Homo sapiens: one gene and its partners. The protein of the gene in region 1 interacts with the protein of each later gene in a pairwise test. Each region holds a gene or a part of one and is shown in the gene's direction. Other genes may lie near its edges.

Region 1 (7,579 bases):
GAAAAAAGGTCATACATCCCACTATCACTGGCCTCTGCCTCTGCCATCTGGCACCTGTAGATCCCCCTGCCCACACAGGCTGGAGCCCCTCTCTTCTCTCACTGACCCATGAGACACACTTACCACTCCATCAAATCCTATTTAAAGACTTATGAAGTGATCAGCACCAATAATGCTAGATGCTAGATTCAAACTACAGGATAACTATTTTACAGACGGCCAAACTGAGGTTCAGGAAAATGAAATCAATGGTTCCCAAACACCAGTCCAAGAACTGTTGCCAGTCCTTGTGGTGATGTTTTCACCAGTCTTCAGCCAAACTGGAAAAATAAGACTAAAAGCTTTAAGTTTTTCATACACCCGAAATTATTCTATTTTTAAATTGTGAGGTTATGTCCTATCTTCCCTTCTGTGTATACGGAAAAGATATCAAAATGACCCTTCTTTTGTAAAATGATATTGATAGGAGCTGGAATTTGAAACTAGATCACTGACTTTCACCGTCTCCTATTACACTATTTTAATTACTTCTAAATTTTTTTTTTTTTTTTTTTTGAGACGGAGTCTCGCTCTGTCACCCAGGCTGGAGTGCAGTGGCACAATTTCAGCTCACTGCAGCCTCCGCCTCCTGGATTCAAGCAATTCTCCTGCCTCAGCCCCCTGAGTGGCTGGGATTAAAGGCGCATGCCACCATGCCCAGCTAATTTTTGTATTTTCAGTAGAGACGGGGTTTCACCACGTTGGCCAGGCTGGTCTTGAACTCCTGACCTAGTGATCTGCCCGCCTTGGCCTCCCAAAGTGCTGGGATTACAGGTGTGAGCCACTGCGCCTGGCCCACTTTTAAATATTTTTAAATGACTTTAATTTTAAATTCAACAATTATTAAACAATCGTTTATAAATATTTTAAATTGTATAACATAATACACTTAAAATATCTTCAAATAAAACTCGGCCCATGGCTGACTCTTCATGGTATCCTAGGCAGGGTTAAAAACTCAAATCCTCACACGGATAGGCAGGTTACAATTTCAAGAAGTAGATGGGAAAAAAAAAGAAACATTCGCAAGTCCCTAAATGTAGGATTTAAGGGCGCATGTCTCCCCCTGCTGGTTGTGGTGGTAGGAAACCGAACCTAGACCACAATGGTACTGGGGAGAACTTGAATTGGAAAGGACCCTACAGCAAGAAGAATAGGTGCTTCAGAACCCACTATCCATCACAGGGTCCTTACCCCATCCATCATAGGGTCCTTACTCCAACCAAGAGTAAAGAGAGTAAAGTGAGTGAAGGTTAAAGAATTCGTGGCACCAGTAAACTATCAATAGATGCTGATTTACAAATCTTGGTAAATTAATAGGAAAGGAAGAAAAACGTTTACGGTGGTTTAGCTACATAAAAATATTCACTATCAATCTTCATGAATTGCTTATTCTGTATATCTAATTATATAGAATCATAGCATAAAATAATCATAAAAATTATGCCTATCATTAGTCTTGATTCATTTGGTTCCATTACAATACTTGTCTGAAGCTTAAGTTATTGGTACAGCATGGCTGTCTGCTCAAGATGTAGGTAAAGTCAAGGAAGTTTGGTTTATTTGCCCCTTCGGAGGACTAAGAGGGCCTCATGCTTTCGCATATTTCACTGATTCTTTTTTGCTTGGTATGCATTATCCCCTCACCTGCTTCCATTATTGCAAACCCAACTTTCAAGCTGTCTTTAAAGCTTTACCTGCTGGTCTCTTTCTACTCCAACAACCGAAAAAGAAAGTTTTTTTTTTCTCCCTTAATGTTATTGTTTTGTTCAGAATCTTTTGGTAGTTATCCCATTCTCTTTCATATTGCTTATTACATCATGTCTTATTTCCCATATCAGATTGTAAGTTATTTGAAGGCAGACTTTTATTCTTTTTTTTTTTGAATTTTATTTTTGTTTTGTTTTTTATTTAAGTTCAGGGATACGTGTGCAGATTCGTTACATAGGTAAACTTGTGTCATGGCGGTTTGTTGTACAGATGATTTCGTTACCCAGGTATTAAGCCTAGTATCCATGCTGCTGTTTTTTAAATTTTTTATTTCCATAGGTTTTTGGGGAACAGGTGGCATTTTGGTTATATGAGTAAGTTCTTAAGCGGTGATTTGTGAGATTTTGGTGAACCCATCACCTGAGCAGTATACACTGCACCCAATTTGTAGTCTTTTATCCCTCACCCCCTTCCCACCCTTTCCCCTTGAGTCCCCAAAGTCCACTGTATCATCCTTATGCCTTTACATCCTCATAGCTTAACTCCCACTTATGAGTGAGAACATACGATGTTTGGGTTTCTATTCCTTAGTTACTTCACTTAGAATATAAGTCTCCAATCTCATCCAGGTTGCTGCAAATGCCATTAATTCATTCCTCTCATAGTTTATTTATTTGCCCCTTCGGAAAACTAAGATAGGACCACACCTCATGCTTTTGCTTATTTCATTGATTCTTTTTTTGCTTTGTGTGCGTCGTACTCTCACCCACTTCCATTACTGCAAATCCAACTTTTAGCTATCCTTAAAGATTTACCTACTGATCTCTTCCTACTCCAACAACCAAAAAAAAACAAAGTTTTTTTTTCTCCCTTTATTTTATTAATTAGGTTTTGTTCACAATCTTCTGGTACTTATCCCATTCTCTTTCATATTATTTATTACAGCGCGTCTTATTTCCCATATCAGATTTTAAGTTATCTGAAGGCAGATTGTTTTATTCCACTTCAAAAGAAGGCAATATATTAATAGCTTCATGGATAAAAGCCACGGTTTTCGTTTGTTTGTTTTGGTGAGACGGAGATTTGTTGCCCAGGCTGGAGTGCAATGGCACGATCTCGGCTCACCGCATCCTCCGCCTCCCAGGTTCAAGCGATTATCCTGCCTCAGCCTCCCGAGGATTACAGGCATGTGCCACCACGCCCAGCTAATTTTGTATTTTTAGTAGAGACGGGGTTTCACCGTGTTGCCCAGGCTGATCTTGAACTCCTGACCTCAGGTGATCCGCCCGCCTCGGCCTCCCAAAGTGCTGGGATTACAGGCGTCAGCCACTGTGCCTGGCCAAAGCCATGGGTTTTTAGTTGAGTCCTAATGGGCAAAAACGCCACACAACTGGAAAAAAATACCACCTGCGTCATAAACTTGTAAGGAATCATAAAAGGATGCATATAAAGCGGCCCGGCTCCTAATTACTTGGTAATTGTTAACTATTGCTTTCACTCTGTCCCCAAAACAAAAGCCTTACATGGTGTAGGCATATTACTTGTTGGTAAAGCTGACTACTAACAAGTACACCCATACCCAGTAATACATTAGAATTACCTGTGTCTAGAGGACTAACGTGATTAACCACGACCTAGCAGCACTTACAAAGGCCTGGATGACCAGTATAAAACAATTCCCCACTATCTAAATCAGCACTGTCCAATATAACTTTCTGCGATGCTGGGAATGGGCTATATATAATCTGCACTGTCCAATAAAGAGGTCACTGAGCTCCTGAAATGTGGCTAGTACAACTGAGAAACTTATCCAGTCGTTAGTGACCATCTTACTGGACAGCTCAGCTCTTGAATCTGCCTCGACCCGTCAACTCTTTAAACTCGCCCATGTCCTCTTTTTCACTAGCGAAATAATTCTTTTTCTAAGTAACCTTCACTGATTCAAGGCATCAGAACGTCAACTGATCCCAAGCCCTTTTTTTCTTTAGCTGTTACACACGTGTGTTCACCGTGAACCTTCACCAAGAAACAGCATCCATATAAAACCCATAGCACATGACAAAGTCAGTCAAACATCAAAGGTCATGAAATCATCTACTTAAAATAACTCATCGCGCCTCGACCTCGTGAAGCACGGTCTCGAGGGTGGACGGGAACAAAAAACAAACAGGGCGACAGGCGTAGAGAAAATGCGAGGAGCACGCGGGGAGGTCTGGCACCCCTGTCACGGCGACTCCAGGCTGAGGCCGCCCGCACGCCCGCTCTCCCACGCCGGGCACTGTCGCTCCCGGCACGCGCACAGGCCGGACACGACTCGCCCCGGCCCCCACCCCCAACGGCGGCACGGCGGCACGGCGGCACGCACCAAGACAGTGCGAGAGTCGCTCCTCTCTCTGTATCGACTCCAAGCCGGCCCCACCCCCGGCTCCTCTGAACCCCGCCTGGAAACCTTGCCCAAGCCGCTCATTGCTCAAGGCCCCCGTACAAAATGGCGGCGAGGCCTGAGGAACCAACCATAGAGACGCCCGCCGGCCGCGGACAGAGCGTAGGCCTCTGAGCGCTGGCCCCGCCCCGCGCCGGCCTGGTCTTCCGGCGGGGGCGGGGAAAGGGCGCATTTCCAAGGGCCCTTCTAGGAGAACAGCGTGCGGTCTCCATGGTGCCGGGTCATCCGAGTCGGGTCACGTGGCTGGCGAAAGCCGTCGCGGAGGCGTGGGGAGGAGAAATGGGCGGGAGGCTGTGGGGATAGCGAGACACCCAGCGACGACGAGGTTGTCATGGTGCCGCGGGGCCGTGCTCGCGCATGCGCCACCTGACCCACAGGCCGGTCGTGGAGCTGCGACCCCGGCCCTAGGTGAGAAAGGGAGGGCTCGGTCCGGGAGGAGGGGAGCAGGGATGACGGCGGGAGAGGGATTGGGCGAGGAGCGTGGGGAAAGGAGGTGGAAGTAGGGGAGAGAGGAAGAGGAGCGAGTAGGCAAGAGGGGCAAACCGGGACTTTCGGAGGACGGAGAGCCAAATGGTGGGAGCAGGGCTTTGGTTTGCTGTGAGGGGCGTGGGAGAGGGAATCGCGGGTGAGGAGGGGGCTGCGTGTGGGGAGGAGGCTTGTGTGAGGGGCAGGTGGGCCCTGGTCTAGCCCTGGGCGCAACCGCCAGCCGGCTGGGCGGGGAGAGAGCTTGGAGTCCAGCCCGGCTGGGAGCTGAGGGCCAAGCAATGGGCAGGTGAGTGGGCGCCAGAACTAGTAACTGGGCGAGGGTCCTGGGCTTCCGGTTTGAGGTCGGGGGTGGTACCCTGTTCTGGCTCCAGGGCACAGGTGTGCTGCCTTTTCCAGAGACCTGCCGTCACCCTCGTTGCTGGTTGTTTCCCCTGAGTGGCCAGCTTGCCAGGCTTGGTGTCGGGGGTAGTGTTTCTGGGGAGAAGGTGGGCAGTGCCAAGTAAGGAGTTAAGTGGTTAGTGGGTGGGTTCGGGGGAGCTCTGATCCCGGCCCAGGTCACAGGCTGGAGCTAGGCTCCCTGTTATTGCTCAAGTCCTGGCAGTATGCATTGCCTGGGCGTTTGCCCTGGAAGGCTGGTGGTATGCCAGTCACAGCACAGTACTAGGGTCTGCCCAGTTTTGCCCTGCTGAGCTGGCAGGCTGGTGGATGCCTGGAGGGTGCACATGCTGCCTGGCACAGATGCAACGTGGGCTGGTGCGAATGGGTAGGTGGGCACTGTTACTGTGAACTAATTGCAGCAGGGGATCGGAGAAAGTTCTCTAAGCTCATCTCCCCTTTGAAAGGTGAAAATAGAGCCAAACTGGTCTAAAACATAGGAAATTGTATGGAATTGGGGTTCAGGATCTTTGACACGAATTTTCAGCCAAGTTGGAGAAATGGAATGAATGTGGAAGGGAAGATGAATATTAGACATTTAGGTAGACAGGGTTTTTCCACTGTTAAGATACCCAGACATTCTCCCAGAATGGTATCCCTGAATATGCAGGCCAAAAGAAAATGACTTCGGAGAAAAGCTAGTAATGTATTTATAATTCTAACGGGGATTACTCAAGGTTTTCTTTCTGTGACCTTATCACTTTATTGTATTTAAGCCTCTGGTTGGGCTTTTACCTCACACTTCTGTCCAGGCACACATGTTATACACGTGACACATTTTAAAGGGAACTTGAGCTTCCAGGAATGTTGCCAAGTGTCTATAAAAGGAGAGATCTGAAAGCAGCATTTCAGATCCTTTTCTTGTAACCCTGGATCTCCTTTTTAATCATAAGGACAAATCTTCACAAAGATTGTTTGTGGATTAGATCAACCCTTAATTTGGATGGTGGATTTGTCCCTGACGTTTCAACTTAGAATAAGGGGTAGATCAAATATCTGTTTCCTGCAGGGGACCAGACGTGGAGGTTAGATCTTAAGGTGACCGTGGTGTTTGGAAATGCAGAATCTTGACCTTCAAGCTGTTCAGGTATTTCTGTGACTGCTAAGCTACTAGAGCTGTCAGAGACTCAGCAGGTCAGAGATTTGTTGGAATTTATTACTCTATTGAATGCCTCATGTTAATTGTTGGGGGCTGAGGTTGCAAAGATGAAAAAAACAACTCGAGGTTGAGGAGACAAATAATTAGACTAATGTCAGAAGTGCAAAAAGAGTAGTAAGAGCTAAATGCTTTGGAGCACTTGCTAGGATTTTGAATTTTGTCCCCTTATATAAACTTATATATTTATTGATTCACTTTCTTTCTTTCTTTTTTTTTTTTTTTTTTTGAGACGGAGTCTCACTCTGTCACCCAGGCTGGAGTGCAGAGGCACAATTTCGGCTTACTACAATCTCTGCCTCCCAGGTTCAAGCTATTCTCGTGCCTCAGCCTCTTGAGAAGCTGGGATTACAGGCACACATCCCCAAGCCCAGCTAATTTTTGTGTTTTTAGTAGAGACAGGGTTTCACCATATTGGCCAGGCTGGTCTCCAACTCCTGACCTCAGGTGATCTGCCCGCCTGTGCCTCAAAGTGCTGCTGGGATTATAGACGTGAGCCACCTTGCCTGGCTCTGATTCTCTCTTTTCTTTTCTTTTCTCTTCTTTTTTTTTTTTCTTTTGACGGAGTCTCACTCTTCACCCAGGCTGGAGGGCAGTGGCAACATCTCGGCTCACTGCAACTCCACATCCCAGGTTCAAGGGATTCTCCTGCCTCACCCTCCCAAGTAGCTAGGATTACAGATGTGTGCCACCACACCCAGCTAATTTTTGTATTTTTAGTAGAGACAGGGTTTCACCATGTTGGCCAGGCTGGTCTCGAACTCCTGACCTCAGGTGATCCATCCACCTCTGCCTCCCAAAGTGCTGGGATTATAGGTGTGAGCCACCACACCCGGCCTGATTCACTTTCCATTATGAGTTTTAGTGTGTACTATCCTCTCTGGGAAACTTTTGGACAATGTGTTACATATACATGCATAAGAGGCCCAATTAGGGTAAATTCTGACAGTTTTGGAGCCTAAATTAGCCCTTTTAATGCAGAATAAGGTACATGTGTTTGTAAAGCAGCGTGAGTGATTTCCAGTCTATGCCAGGAAGCAGGAAGCAGAAAGAACACAGTGGGTAAGAGCTTAGTAATCCATTTTCAACTCCTAGTCAGTGTGAGCATGTAACTTTATTGTAAACTAATATCTAAGAGGAAAAAAATCAAGCAACTTCCCGAGGTTTTCAGACTTTGCCTTGCAAATTTTGGGGTTGAGAGCACCAGTAGTAAGTGAGGCTTTATGTGGTGCTATGTGTGAGTGGGTCCCTCAGCCACTCCCAGGAGGGCAGTGCTGCTACTCCTCCGAAAGAGTAAAGTTTGGGGAGGG
Region 2 (7,106 bases), on another chromosome or scaffold:
GAGGAAGAGTTGGGACAGAGGGAATAATATCTCTTGGGATCTTTATACAAACAGGAGTCCTGGCTTTAGTTCTGTGGGTTTCCTCTGTGAATTCTGTTCCTAGACCACCACAATCACCTCACACTTTTACCCCTACAGCCAAATAACCATGTCCTCTACCCAGGTCTCCGGTGTGCATTTGGGCGTCTTATCCTCATAAAGTATATAGCTTAAGGCTTGAGGGCACTGGCTGCAGAATTACAGAGATCTAGGTTCAAATGCCAGATCTGCCACTTCTGGCTGTGTGACCTTAGTCAAGCTGTTTATTCTCTCTAGGCCTCAGTTTTCTCATCTGTAAGATGAGGATGATACTAGCAGGGCCTATTTCACAGGGTGGTTGTGATCATTGAATGAAAATGCATGTAAAGCCTGGCACAGAGTAAGAATTCAGCCAATGCTTATGTCTATCATTATCCTTTCTCCTTAATCAGTATCCACTGGAGAAAAAGGAGAGAGAAAGAGGAGAGGAAAAGGCCCAGCTCTAGATTGACGAGGCACCAGGAGGAGATGAGGACCCCGGGGTTTCTCTGTGTGAACCCATTCTCTACCATGATGGTGGGGGGGTGGTGGTTCTGGGGTTTGAGAGGAGAGATCCCCCTGGGTTGCAGCCCCTCCCCTGCTCCTACCACTTCCTCTCTGTGGCATAGGGCACCTGGACAGGGCCCAGGGTTGGCTTCCTAAGCTGGCACAGGGCCAGGCTCTGGAAGTACTCAAAGCACTATCATTGAATCTCACAGCTGTGAGAGGCTCGATTAGAGGAGGATGGAGGACTTTGCCTCTACCGTATTTCCCCTCATAGGAGGAGCTACTAGGATGCTCCTGGGGGTACTTCAGTCTCTAAAGCAATTCAGAGGAGATTCAGTTTCTTTTTCTAGTATTGTCTCAGAATGAAGTCTTAGAGGTCACACTGGATGGCAGAAAAGATGCAAGAATGAGCTCAGGAAAAGATCGCCAACCCCAGCCCCACTCCCTGGAAGGAGCAGCCTGGCAAAAAGGCAGGAATAGGGACTAAGTTCTTGCTACTCAAAGTATAAGCTGAAGACCAGTAAGCTTAGGCACCAACTAAGAGCTGACCAAAGTGCAGAATCTTGAGTCCCACCTCAGATCCCCAGGTAATCTTGTTTGAGATGCAGAAAGCCATAGTCATTCAGTCATTAGATGACTTAAGGAGCTGGCGGGTGCATTTGGGCATTTGTCTCTCCTTTTGGAAGATGTGGAATTGGAGTTTTCTTTTGGAGAAAGCTCTCTCTCAGGAGAGAGCTACAGTGAGAGAGCTGCAGGTGAGATGCAAAGATCTTTCCAAGACAGCAGGCGAGGGTAGAGTTAGGGCTGCCATGGGAGCAGTGGTGCAGGGGCTGGTTCGAGGTTCCTGACCTTTGCTTGGCTCTAGTTCCTGGCACTGGCAGGCCCTTAGATGGTAAGTTCCTGGCAGGCCTGGCTCCAGGGCAACAGTTTGAGTAATCCTGTGATTACTCAGCTCCTTCTCCCCAATCTGAGTTCCCACCACCTGCTGCTTCAGGGACGTGTCTCCCAGGGGTAGCTTTTGAAGGTGAGTTATCATCAGAGGTGTTTTCAGCTCCTCTCACCAACCCCCAAGTCTACCAGCCCCCTTCCCGTTCTCCCCCACCCCTTCTCTACAAGTAACACACACCCTCATGTACACAGCACTGGTACTTTCTTTCTGAGGTTTGGGTGGATGGCATTGAAGGGAGTGCAGGTGGCAGGGGAAGGAGGGGGGAGCAGGACTAGAGGGCCTGAAGTGCTGAGGGGGCCATGGGTTGGGCAAAGGCCAGGATACAAGCGTGGATTTTCTGTGTTTCAGTGTTTCCGCAGCCGTCTCTCCATCCCTAGATCTATGTCTCTGTTTTTCCTGGACCCAAACCTCTTGGTCTCTCCAGCTCAGTGAGGCTAGGGGGTCTGACATTCTAGCTCAGAGTCTTTGGCCTTGTGTGTCTGTCTCACTGGGTACTTCTGTCTTGGACTGGGAGGATGGAGGATGGGCTGACCAGGTGGCTGGAGTCCAAGGCTTTGGTGTCGCCCAAACATGGGTATTTGCGAAGGGGGTCCTTGACTGGCCGCATCTTCCTATGAGAAGGTCAAGGTCTTGGTGACACTGTTGTGAGGTTCCTAGGGCCAGGAGAAGCAGTGGGTCAAGCATGGGGCAGGGAGATGTGTCTGGGGTCACCATGTGGTCAGCACACACACGCACGCGGATGTGGCTCTTGGAGAAGGGAAGAGGCAGGGAGGCCTGTGGTTGACTGCTGGGCCAGAGCCCGAGTTCCCACTGCGGCTTGGCCTAATCTCCCTCCCGCTTACTTTTTTGGGTGGCCCACGTTGGTTTCTCCCATCTCTGGTCTTAGGCCACTGAAAAGAGAGATGCCACAGTGTTGGAGGGGGAGGTGTTGGGCAAGAACAGAGTCCACAGGGCCCGAGTGCTCCTCTCAGCCTTGCCAGGCCCACTGGTCTTCTCAGCCTGACCTCTGCTCAGGAGTAACTTGAATACACAGTGCTTTCCATTGGTGATATCATTTCATTACTCTCTGTTACCTACAATCACCCCATGGACAGGCAATAATACTTTTATCCTGATCTTGCTGACAAGAAAACGTAGGTCTAGAGGGAGAATCTAAGTGACTAGAAGTATGGGGGCCCCAACGTTTTCTGCCCCTGTTCCAGACACCCAGTGCCCTCTTATTCTCTCTTCCCCTCCATGTATTAAAATCTGCTCTTAATTTACTGGAAAGAACCTGGAAAACTCACTTACCGCCTGGTCCTGGGGGGACCACAGCTTACAGTGTGAGCACTGGAAGCTTGCTGCTGGGCAGGCACGTGTGGCTGGGGGTTGGGTGAGGAATTGAGTGCTAATGAAGGGATTTCAGATACCCATGTGCCCTGTCCCCGTCAGGGTCAGCTACTGCCTCTGACTCACCTCAAGTCTGGCCTGAGGGATGATGGTTTAAGAATGATGGAAATAATATTTTGGGGAATGGCGGGCAAGCCATGGTCTCCCTGCCCACTTCACATCAACAGGCCCTACATGTGACCAGTGTCCAGGCCAGGGACTGGAGGTGAGATCACAGCAATGTGCATTCGCCCTCCAGAGAGGCTGCCACTTCTTTTGCCCCTTTGGTGGGAGACACGTCATAGATTAAAAGGGGCTTTGGCCCTTCTCTTCACTTTTCTGGCCTGTCCCGCCCCAGGGCTCCCCACTCAGAGGGGAGGCAGCAGGTCAGTGATGGTGGAAAAGAGACCCATGTGCTCTGGGAAATGCTAAAAACACCTACAGTAACCAGGGATCCCAAGCTTTGCCCAGCTACCTTTCAAGGAAGAGCTGGGAGAAGGCCTCCTGTGGTCCCATGAAGCTCAGCAGAGAGTCGTGGGCATTGACAGGAACAGGGCAAAGCAGAGATGAGCTTAGGGCCAGCAGCAAACCACAGGGGTAGGGAAGCAGGTACAGGTTACAGTGAGTTCAGTGGGAGAGAGAACCCGGGGTCCTAGTGCCCCATGAGCAGACACTAACATACAAATATGCACGTGTGGACGCAGGAGCAACCAGATATGTCGTAGGCTCACAAATGACACATACTTTTCTTGCATATGCACACCCACAAGCACACCTTCAAACATGCCCACTGAAATGTGTACCCGAAAAGACAGGTACACAGAACAGCATAATGGAAAGCTCAGGGGAACTGGGATGTAGATCCAGCTCTCAGGCAAACTAGCCTATGACCCTGGCCCAACCGCTTTGCCTCATCTGGCTTAGTCCTTCATCGGTAAATGAAGAGGTTGAATGAGATGGTCTCTAGTCTCAGCCATTTTTAACATTGATGATTCATGTTCACACAAATGGATACAGATGCCTTTGTACAAACATAAGTGTTCACACTCAGACACACGGATGTACACAAAGCCACCCTCTCTCTGCTCTGGGGCCAAGAGCCTAAGAGCCCTGGCTAATTCTTTCCCTAGGCTCTCAGGCATCCAGCAGAGCTGGGGTGTTGAGCCCCCGTTTCCTGGGTTCCTCCCTGCCACCCCCTCACCCTGTCTCTGTATAGCACCTCCCTGAGCCTTCACTGTCTGGCTGGGAAGGACTGGCATCTCTGCCTATCCCCCACCCCTTGTGTACCACATCTTCCTGCTATACCCTACACTTTGCCCATGGGAGCTGAGCCCCAGCGAGGGAGGGAGGCACAGAGGAAGCCCCTTCGGCGGGAAGCAGGTGTTGTGAGGCCGTGAGGAGTCCTATGTCCCAAGGCGGGAGGGAGGCAACTGGAGCTTTTCAACTCGAAGGGCTGAGCAGGTGGCCCCTCTGCAGCTGCTTTCTCTGCCTCCATAGCACTGATACAACTCCCGGCCACCCCTCCACACTCCCCTCCTCTGTGAAACAAACACAGCTTCCTCACACCCTTTGCTGAGAAGCATTTGGCATTTCACTTCCCCTTCCATTTTGCAAGAGGGAAACAGCAAGCTGGAGCTGGTTGGAGAAGTAGTGGAAGCACCAGGTACCTGTATCTGCAGCCCAGGTACATGGTGGTTGAATGCAGAAAAGCCTCCTGGGCTGACCTACTTCTCTTTCTCTCTTCCAGCACAAATTGAAGTGATCCCTTGCAAAATCTGTGGGGACAAGTCGTCTGGGATCCACTACGGGGTTATCACCTGTGAGGGGTGCAAGGTGAGTCATAGGCATGTGTATGCATGCATGTGTGCGTGTGCATACACAAGCGCGCGCGCGCGCACACACACACACACACACAGTGTCTCCTTAGAGATAAACAAGGGGGTTAATGGCCTTTGTTCTGACTCCAGGGATGATCTCCTGGGCAGCCAGGAAAATGCCTGAGTAGCGCCTTCCTGCAGGGCCCTCAACACTGGCAGGGCCCTGTCTTAAGCTGGGGAAATGACTACAGGATAAATTGCAATTACACAAATAGATGGAGGAGAGAGAAAACTGACAGGTCGTGGGATGTAGAAAAGCTGCCAGAGCTTGTGGGCTGGAGGCCTTTGTGAGTGAGCTGGGCCTGACCAGGATAAGCAGTCTTGCCCTCCACCTGCTTTCCCCAGGGCTTCTTCCGCCGGAGCCAGCGCTGTAACGCGGCCTACTCCTGCACCCGTCAGCAGAACTGCCCCATCGACCGCACCAGCCGAAACCGATGCCAGCACTGCCGCCTGCAGAAATGCCTGGCGCTGGGCATGTCCCGAGATGGTGAGGCCAAGTCGACAGCCCCCTGGGGTTTTCCTGGTGTCTCCAGAGGGGCAGCCTGGCCTGCTGAGCTAGACAAGGCTTAACCTGCAAGACGGCCCATCCTCTGGTCTCCTCTCCATTCCTCCCCGTTACAACCCCTTGTCTCCTCCCCTCCAGGGATGGATGGGTCACCCCCATCAAAGTTCTTTGGAGTCCCCAACTTTAGGCTTTGCTAGAACAAACATCCTCTTTCCAAGGTCCCATACCTCTTCATCTCTTCTTACTTGGAACGAATTCTCCTCACTCTGCTGCCCTCTGGCCCAGCTCCCATGCAGCTCTGGCACCTTCCCCTGCTACCCTGTTGTTGTAGTTCTAGCTCTATCTCCTTTTCTAATCCCCCATTCCCATACTTGGACACAGGACTATAGCCAGGAATGGAAACAGAATTGGCCTGAGAACAACCAGAGGGTGGTCGTGGGGGAGGGCTGGTGTTCCTGGTGCCTTATCCACCCTCCTCACCCACCACCTCCTCACCAGTCTCCCTGCACACCTCCACCACCACAGAAGGAGCCTAGGGTGGAGCTGGGGGGGCATGAGGTGATGAGGAGCCAGAAGGAGCCCGTCAGCACTTTTCAGTGCCCAAAATAACAAAGCAAAAGGAAGCACGCAGGGGTGCAAAGGGGCAGGCGGGGCGAGGGGCTGTGCCCCTACACCTGGGAGGGGTGGCGGGGGGAGTAAAAAGGCAGGAAAGAGAGAGCAGAAGAGGATGTTCAGAAACAAGCCGCGGAGCCCGGGTTGGGCTGTGGTGAGTATCTAGGTCACCAGGGAGCCTGCAGGCCTGACCACAGGGAGACCTGTGTTCTCAGCTCTCCTCTTCCTCCGACCCTCCCAAAGAGGCGAGGTGACCCCAATACAGCTTGAGGCCCTCTGCTCGACCACCCCCAGCCCCAAGATCTGGAGGCCAGAATCCCCAGCCTAGACTCATTGCTTGAATTCTGCCATGATTCAAATCTGATTTAGAACTTAGAAGATTTTGCTTAGCAGATTGAAATGGCAGACTGGACAGACCCCAGAAGCAAACAAGAGTGAGAGGTGGACGGGGTCTTGAGCATAAGTTCCCTAAAGGCTAGAGAAGCTGTGCTTGGAGTCAGCCATTCAGAGAGCAGCAAGTTAATCCTTTAATGACCAAATGCCTCCTGACCCTGCCCTGTGCCATGTTCTCCTGCCTCATAAACCCCTGGTCCCTGGACCTCTTTCAGCTGTCAAGTTCGGCCGCATGTCCAAGAAGCAGAGGGACAGCCTGCATGCAGAAGTGCAGAAACAGCTGCAGCAGCGGCAACAGCAGCAACAGGAACCAGTGGTCAAGACCCCTCCAGCAGGGGCCCAAGGAGCAGATACCCTCACCTACACCTTGGGGCTCCCAGACGGGCAGCTGCCCCTGGGCTCCTCGCCTGACCTGCCTGAGGCTTCTGCCTGTCCCCCTGGCCTCCTGAAAGCCTCAGGCTCTGGGCCCTCATATTCCAACAACTTGGCCAAGGCAGGGCTCAATGGGGCCTCATGCCACCTTGAATACAGCCCTGAGCGGGGCAAGGCTGAGGGCAGAGAGAGCTTCTATAGCACAGGCAGCCAGCTGACCCCTGACCGATGTGGACTTCGTTTTGAGGAACACAGGCATCCTGGGCTTGGGGAACTGGGACAGGGCCCAGACAGCTACGGCAGCCCCAGTTTCCGCAGCACACCGGAGGCACCCTATGCCTCCCTGACAGAGATAGGTGAGCAGCTGGGGAGGTGGAGAGGGTGGTAGAGATGAGGGAGGGGTTTCCACCAGTACCCCGTATCAATCAAACATGCGCCTGAGGGAATTGAGGGGTCCAGACGAGGG
Region 3 (7,106 bases), on another chromosome or scaffold:
AAAAGATGTTGCAAAACAAAGGCAGTCATTGCCTTTGCTCACAGATAGGTAGAAAGAGATCTATGGAGAATTGTCTTCAGCATCTTATAAAGGGAGGAATGGTAATAAATGGCCACATTTATTCATTCAACCCATACTGAGCACTAACCCTGTGCCTGGCCTTGTTCTAGGCATGAGGATATGGTGGTGAACAGTGCCCTTGTGGAGCTAACATTTTAGTTGGGGAAATGGACAATAAGCAGATCTGTAACATAGTGTTAAGTCCTACAAGAATGGAAAGCAGGATGAGAGACAGTGGCAGGGGTGAGTTCTTTTACATTATGAAAGCAATACTGTACTGGAGCATAAACTGCAGTAGAAATAGAAAAGGAGTTTTCGGCATTGTATTGTAAAATTACAGGGGTTGTGCTGGGCTGGGGGAGGAGAATATGATCCCTTGACACCAGTAAGACAGGCCTCTCGGGTCTCTAAAAGGAGCTCAGAGAGTTTCTAGTTGGAAGCGAGCACTACAGGTTGAGTATCCCTTATCCGAGAGCCTTGGGACCAGAAGTGTTTCAGATTTTGGGGTTTTCCCAGATTTTGGAATATTTACACATATATAAGATAACTTGGGACTGGGACCCAAGTCCAAACACAGAATTCATTTGTTGAATATATGCCTTACATACATAGCCTGAAGGTAATTTTATACCACATTTTAAGCAGTTTTGTGCATGTAACAGTTTTGGCTGCTTTTTGACTCTAGCCCATCATCACATGAGGCCAGGTGTGGAATTTCCCACTTGTGGTGTCATGTCGACACTGACAAATTTGGGATTTTTGAGCATTTCAGATTTTTTATTTTTGGGTTAGGAATGCTCAAATCTGTAGTAATAATCACAAGAATGAATATAGTTTCTTCTAAGTTAAGTGCTAAAATTTGGTGCAAATGAAAGGTGTAAAACCATGTGTAAACTACCTAAAAAGATTGAATGGATAAGCTTTTGCATAAAATACTTGAAGTAGAAGGATAGATTTGAGCACTGCAGTGTGTGCATGTATATGGGTAACTAGTTGACAGTAACAAGGGCTGCAGTCAAGGTGATCACAAAGTGCCATGAGTGCTTGGCCATTTTTACTGAGGGAATGAGGTGACTGCTCCTGACCCCAAGTGTCCTGCCATCCTTTTAGAGTTAAGCCAGATGGTCAGACTGCTGTGGGCTTCCACAGGATGTATCGGCCCTTGGCGTGTGAGGTCAGTGGCCTGTGTAGATGAAGTCTGTGACAGCCCGTCCTGGGGGTTTGTTCTCGGCCTTATTCATGTTCTTCTACTGTGACATCCTTATGAGAACCGTTGGGAGAAATTTTTGATTTTGGTGTCAGAATTTCACCCGAATAATTTGTTTGCTTTCATCTTTTGAACCCTGAATTACATAACTGTTTTCATCCTAGTGATGGTTGCTAAAAAATTTAGTTAGAGACAGATGTATGGGCTGACTCTTGACTAATTTAGACATCTTCCAGGAAAACATTTCTGTCTTGTCATCTGTGGCTCTGCTTTAGGTCTCTCTCCATGTTTAATTTTTTTTTTTTTTTTTTTTTTTTTACTTATTATTGTTAAAAAAATTTTTTAATTTCTTTCTTTCTCTTTCTTTCCTTTCTCTCCTTTCTCTCCCCTTTCTTTCTTTCCTCTTCTCTTTTCTTTTCTTTCTTGAGATGGGGTCTCACTATGTTGCCCAGGCTGGCCTCAAACTCCTAGGCTCAATCGATCCTCTAGCCTCAACCTCCCAGAGCACTGGGATTACAGTTATTTGTTATTCTTTTTATTTTCTAGTCTCTTGTGCTGAACTGCATTTATCTTTTAAATAGCCTTTAAATATTCTTTGGCAGAAAGTGAGAAACAAATACATATATTACACCTATAAAATCAGTAAAACCAAATAAAAATTATCAAGCCCAATGTTGTAAGGGCCATAGGGAAGTAAGTGCATACACGTGGTTAATGACAGTGTGCACTGAGTTTCTGAGGAGTGTGGCTAGCAATAGATACTTAGTGCTATAACATTGTTTATTCATATTAAGCGGTTAATGCCACTTTTGGAAATGTATGACAGAGAACCGAAAAGAAGATAGTCCTTACAAAATTATTTATACCTACAGTGCACAACAGTGAAAGAGGGGGAGCAACTCAAATGCACAGTGGTAGAGGAGAGTCGAAGAAGTCAGTTAATATAATGCAGTGTTATAAAGCCACCAGAAATGATTCAGTGGATTAGATAAATAGAAATGTACATAAAATATGTAAATTATCAAAACATGCATTAAATCTATTTAAGAATACGTAGATTTAGCAAAAAGAATGAGATGGTCATGGTGAGACCGCTAGGTGGGAAGGGGTCCCCGGAAAAACTCCAGCCAGCCTGCCCACCGGGGTGGAGTTTTGGGAAGTTTGCACCATTTGTAGCAGGGAGGAGCCTGGCCCCTCTTCTTTCTGTGTGGAGCCCAGGATTCTAGCTGCTGGCAGGAAGCACTCTAGCAGGGACTCTGGCCTTGTGAGTGTCTCGGATTCCCCCTTTTCTTCCTTTTCACCTAATAAAACCCTGTCTTACCCACCATTCAAACCGCCTGCGAGCCTAAATTTTTGTGGCTGTGAGACGGACAAGGATCCCGTCTTTAGCTGAACTAAGGAAAAGTCCGGCAACAATGGATATTGGAAATAATATTAATGGATAGGTTTTACTCTCCTGCAGGATTAATATAACCTGTGAGTACTTTTAGGCTTACTACCAGTACAAGGAATGGCTTTTGGAAAGTTCTTAGAATGTAGAGCTGTGCTTCTGCACTTTGTTCAGCTACAAGCAGCCTCTTTGTCTCTCTGTTTCAGGATCTAAGCATTGAAGAACAGTCAGAGTGTGCTCAGGATTTCTACCACAATGTGGCCGAAAGGATGCAAACTCGTGGGAAAGGTAACACTGTTAGCCATTGAGAGATTGCGGGTATTGCACAGGGATGACTGCTCAGTCTCTTAGCAATTTCTTTCTTTCTCTGATGGTCTGGCTGGTTTGTAGACTTCATCCTGTAACCTCATGGACATTCTGGGAACTGGTCTTATACTTAGCAGTGCCTTTGAACTGTACCATGCGTATCTTTCCAGGAGCAATTGGATAATTTATTGAGTAACATTTAATAACTCCATTGGGGCAGGGCTGGAGCTGACGAAAACATCTTAGGGCCTGGCTCAGTAGCTCATGCCTGTAATCCCAGCACTTTGGGAGGCTAAAGCAGGCGGATCACGTTAGGCCAGGAGTTCGAGACCAGCCTGGCCAACATGGTGAAACCCCGCCTCTATTAAAAATACAAAAAGTAGCCGGGTGTTGTGGTGCACCTCTTATCCCAGCTACTCGGGAGGCCGAGGCACAAGAATTGCTTGAACCCGGAAGGCGGAGGTTGCAGTGAGCTGAGACTGTGCCACTGCACTCCAGCCTGGGCAACAGATCGAGACTCTGTCTTCAAAAAAGAGAGAGAGAAAGAGAAAAACTTATTGGAAGGCTTTGCTAAATGAATTTTCCATCTTGGAATCACCATTTTGGTGAGTTATTGTATTAATAGTTTAAAAAAAAAAGAGCTTCAAGTTTTTAGGGATTCTTTATGGATTCAACCTTCACTGATACTAGACTTTAGGATATACTTAGCACATGTGTGTGTCAGAGAAATCTCCATTTGTATACCTCAGAGAGCTCTACGATGTTATGGTAAACCTCAGAAAAATGAAAGGATAAGTTTCATCAGCATTCATCAGTCTTGGGAGTTGCAAATGCCTTTGTAATGTAGGACAGGGAGTGACCTTGCTGAAGTCTCCCCATTTGGCAGGGTGTACACTGTTAGGTCCTGTCAGACAACTTCAGTTAGAACTGAGGTTGCTGTGGAAGGCAGCCCAACAGTTGGAAGAAGATTTTTTTGTTTGTTTGTTTGTTTGTTTTTGTCGAGACAGAATATCACTCTGTCGTCCAAGCTGGAGTACAGTGGTGTGACCTCGGCTCACTGCAACTCTGCCTCCCAGGTTCAAGTGATTCTCCTGTCTCAGCCCCCGAGTGGCTGGGATTACAGGTGCGTGCCACCACACCCAGCTAATTTTTGTATTTTTATTAGAGAGGAGATTTCACCATGTTGGCCAGGCTGGTCTTGAACTCCTGACCTCAGGCGATCCACCTGCCTCAGCCTCCCAAAGTGCTGGGAATACAGGAGTAGAGCCACCGCACCCAGCTGGTAAGTTTTTTTTTTAAGCGTATTTTTAAATATAACATTCTTATACTTTTGTTCTGAGTGTGTTTAATTTATTTCTAGTAAATTAGTTTTTTGCTGTGTAGACAGTGCTATGAAAATATACTCTTGGCCGGGCATTCTGGCTCACACCTATAAACCTAGTACTTTGGGAGGCTGAGGCAGGTAGATTGCTTGAGCCCAGGAGTTCGAGACCAGCCTGGGCAACATGGTAAAACCCCATCTCCACAGAAAAAACCTACAAAAATTATTCAGGCATGGTGGCGTGTGCCTGTGATCCCAGCTACTTGGGAGGCTGAGGTAGGAGAATGGCTCGAGCCCAGGAGGTGGAGGTTTCAGTGAGCCAAGGTCATGCTGCTGCACTCCAACCTGGGCGACAGAGCCAGACTCTTTGTTTGCAAAAAAAAAAAAAAAGAGAGAGAAAAAATATATATATCTTGATCTTTTCTCTGTCTGGTTATTTCAGTGCCTCCAGAAAGAGTCGAGAAGATAATGGATCAGATTGAAAAGTACATCATGACTCGTCTCTATAAATATGTATTCTGTCCAGAAACTACTGATGATGAGAAGAAAGATCTTGCCATTCAAAAGAGAATCAGGTAGTTGCTTATTTTGTTTTGCTTTGTAGTTACTACCTTCTAATGGAAGAACACACTGGGGGGAAAATAATGCACCTGTGTTTCAAACCTTAAGGGAAAGCAATAGCTCATGTTCCTGCTTCCTTAGAGTGGAAGCAGCTCTGTTGTGTAAGAAAGACGAGGAATGTGGTGACCTCACCTATCCATCTCCCTCAAGGCAGCTTTTGGTAAGAGTTGTGTTTGGTGTTTGAGATTGTTTTCAATCCCTGAAATCTCCAAGGAATAGGGGGACTGTGTTCTTGGTCCATTACCATCTCCTCAAGTGGGAAGCTGTGAATATCGGTATCAAGGCAGGGGATGTCGGCTGGGCCCGGTGGCTCATACCTGTAATCCCAGCACTTTGGGAGGATCACTTGAGGCCAGGAGTTCAAGAGTAGCCCAGGCAACGTGGTAAAACCCCGTCTCTACTAAAAATACAAAAATTAGCCAGGCATGGTGGCGCACGCCTGTGATCCCAGCTACTTGGGAGGCTAAGGCACGAGAATGGCTTGAATCCAGGTGGCAGAGGTTGCAGTGAGCTGAGATCATGCTACCACACTCCAGCCTGGGCAACAGAGCAAGACTCCTTCTCAAAAAAATAACAAGTCAGTAGATGTCCTCTTTCCTCATTCCTCCCAGGGGTGTGCATTTTTCAGCATTCCCTAGTCACATCTTTCACTGGCATTGGATTGATGACATTTCCCACAGCACCCAGTCTTCCAGGCTCACTGGGGTGAGCCCCAGCACTGTGTACTCCAGTTGCGGTGGACACTGAGGAAGAGACCACCCAAGTGTGGGAACAGGGCCAAGGCTGAGCTGATGAGGTGTTTTAAGGGGAGAAGGGACTCGGAGTCCCAGGTTCCAGACAAGGGGCTGGTACTTGCTAGATCTGTATTGGAAGTTTCATAGCTGAAGTGAGGAGTTGATACTGGGCAGGCTGAAGATGTGGAGCCCAAGGTCAGGAGCCAGAAGTAACTAGAGGGGCCCTGGACCAAGATGCAGAACAGAAGCAGTAACCAAGCAAGAGGGCAGGCCTGCTGCAGGGTAGTTGGAGTGCAGTTAGGGTGGGACCAGGAAACACACAGTGATTCAGGCATGGTGGTCCTGCCCGTGGCCTCCTATACAAGCTCCAGTGTGCCTCAGAAGTTGAGGGTTGAGGCCAGGTGTGGTGGCTCGCACCTGTAATCCCAGCACTTTGGGAGGCCAAGGCAGGCAGATCACCTGAGGTCAGGAGTTTGAGACCAGCCTGGCCAGCAGGGTGAAACCCTGTCTCGTAAAAGTACAGAAATTAGCTGGGCATGGAGGTGGGCGCCTGTAGTCCCGGCTGCTTGGGAGCCTGAGGCAGGAGAATTGCTTGAACCCAGGATGCAGAGGCTGCAGTGAGCCAAGATTGGCACTCCAGCCTGGGCAAGAGTGAGACTCCATCTCAAAAAAGAAAGAAGTTGAGGACTGAGTGTAAAAGGACATTAACGCAGTAGGCAGCGAGGACAGGCAGCAGCCAATTCTCAAATGGTCACTTTCAGATACTGAGTGCATTTCAGTCTTGGTAGCACTGCGTAATGTCATTTCAGTCAGCAAGATGGCCTTCCATTCTTGTGATAAATGCAGAAGTCTCATTTTAGGATCCTAGCTGCTTCATCACGTCATTAGAGCTCGTAGTACTTGCAGGGGTGATGTGTGTGGGCCTGGGATTGAGTGGTCAGTGATGCCTCAGGCTTTCCCTAAACTGAAGGAGGTGACAAGACAAATGGCCACAGTTTATCCTTGGAGCTCTTGTTTACTGTCTCTCTCTCTTTAGAGCCCTGCGCTGGGTTACGCCTCAGATGCTGTGTGTCCCTGTTAATGAAGACATCCCAGAAGTGTCTGATATGGTGGTGAAGGCGATCACAGGTCAGTGAAACCAAGAGCCTTTTTATTGGGATGTTTTCCCCTTAAAGTTAACATTTTACTGTAATATTCATCTATACATTTGTAAAATGCAGATTGTCGAAGGTACATTGGAATGTAGTAAAAGTGATTTGTAAGATTGTTTTATGAATTTGATGGCATTCAGAAGAGCAGGTTCTCTTTTACCCCTTTATTTTCAGGGATTATGGTCTCGTTTCTTGGGCATTAAACTAAACTAAGGTCAAATGCAGATAGAATAAATTTTTTTTCTTTTTTTTGTACTTCTTTTTTTATTTAGTTTTTATTCAGCTGACTGTTCCATGATAGAATAAATTTCTTAGG

The links.
Region 2: the proteins of CIPC (region 1) and RORC interact in a two-hybrid assay, tested with the Homo sapiens proteins (one study listed by BioGRID).
Region 3: the proteins of CIPC (region 1) and RABGEF1 interact in binary tests that used the Homo sapiens proteins (3 or more experiments, as listed by UniProt).

The regions. Positions count from the first base shown.
Region 1 is NC_000014.9:77,093,762-77,101,340, forward strand, and holds the start of CIPC (CLOCK-interacting pacemaker), read left to right. Parts: upstream 1-4,496; 5' UTR 4,497-4,600; intron 4,601-7,579.
Region 2 is NC_000001.11:151,814,803-151,821,908, reverse strand, and holds part of RORC (nuclear receptor ROR-gamma), read left to right. Parts: intron 1-4,628; coding exon 4,629-4,714; intron 4,715-5,103; coding exon 5,104-5,245; intron 5,246-6,483; coding exon 6,484-6,996; intron 6,997-7,106. UniProt on the Homo sapiens protein: Nuclear receptor that binds DNA as a monomer to ROR response elements (RORE) containing a single core motif half-site 5'-AGGTCA-3' preceded by a short A-T-rich sequence.
Region 3 is NC_000007.14:66,792,648-66,799,753, forward strand, and holds part of RABGEF1 (rab5 GDP/GTP exchange factor), read left to right. Parts: intron 1-2,863; coding exon 2,864-2,945; intron 2,946-3,970; exon of another isoform or gene 3,971-4,086; intron 4,087-4,128; coding exon of another isoform or gene 4,129-4,245; intron 4,246-4,726; coding exon 4,727-4,859; intron 4,860-6,675; coding exon 6,676-6,767; intron 6,768-7,106. UniProt on the Homo sapiens protein: Rab effector protein acting as linker between gamma-adaptin, RAB4A or RAB5A. Involved in endocytic membrane fusion and membrane trafficking of recycling endosomes. Stimulates nucleotide exchange on RAB5A. Can act as a ubiquitin ligase.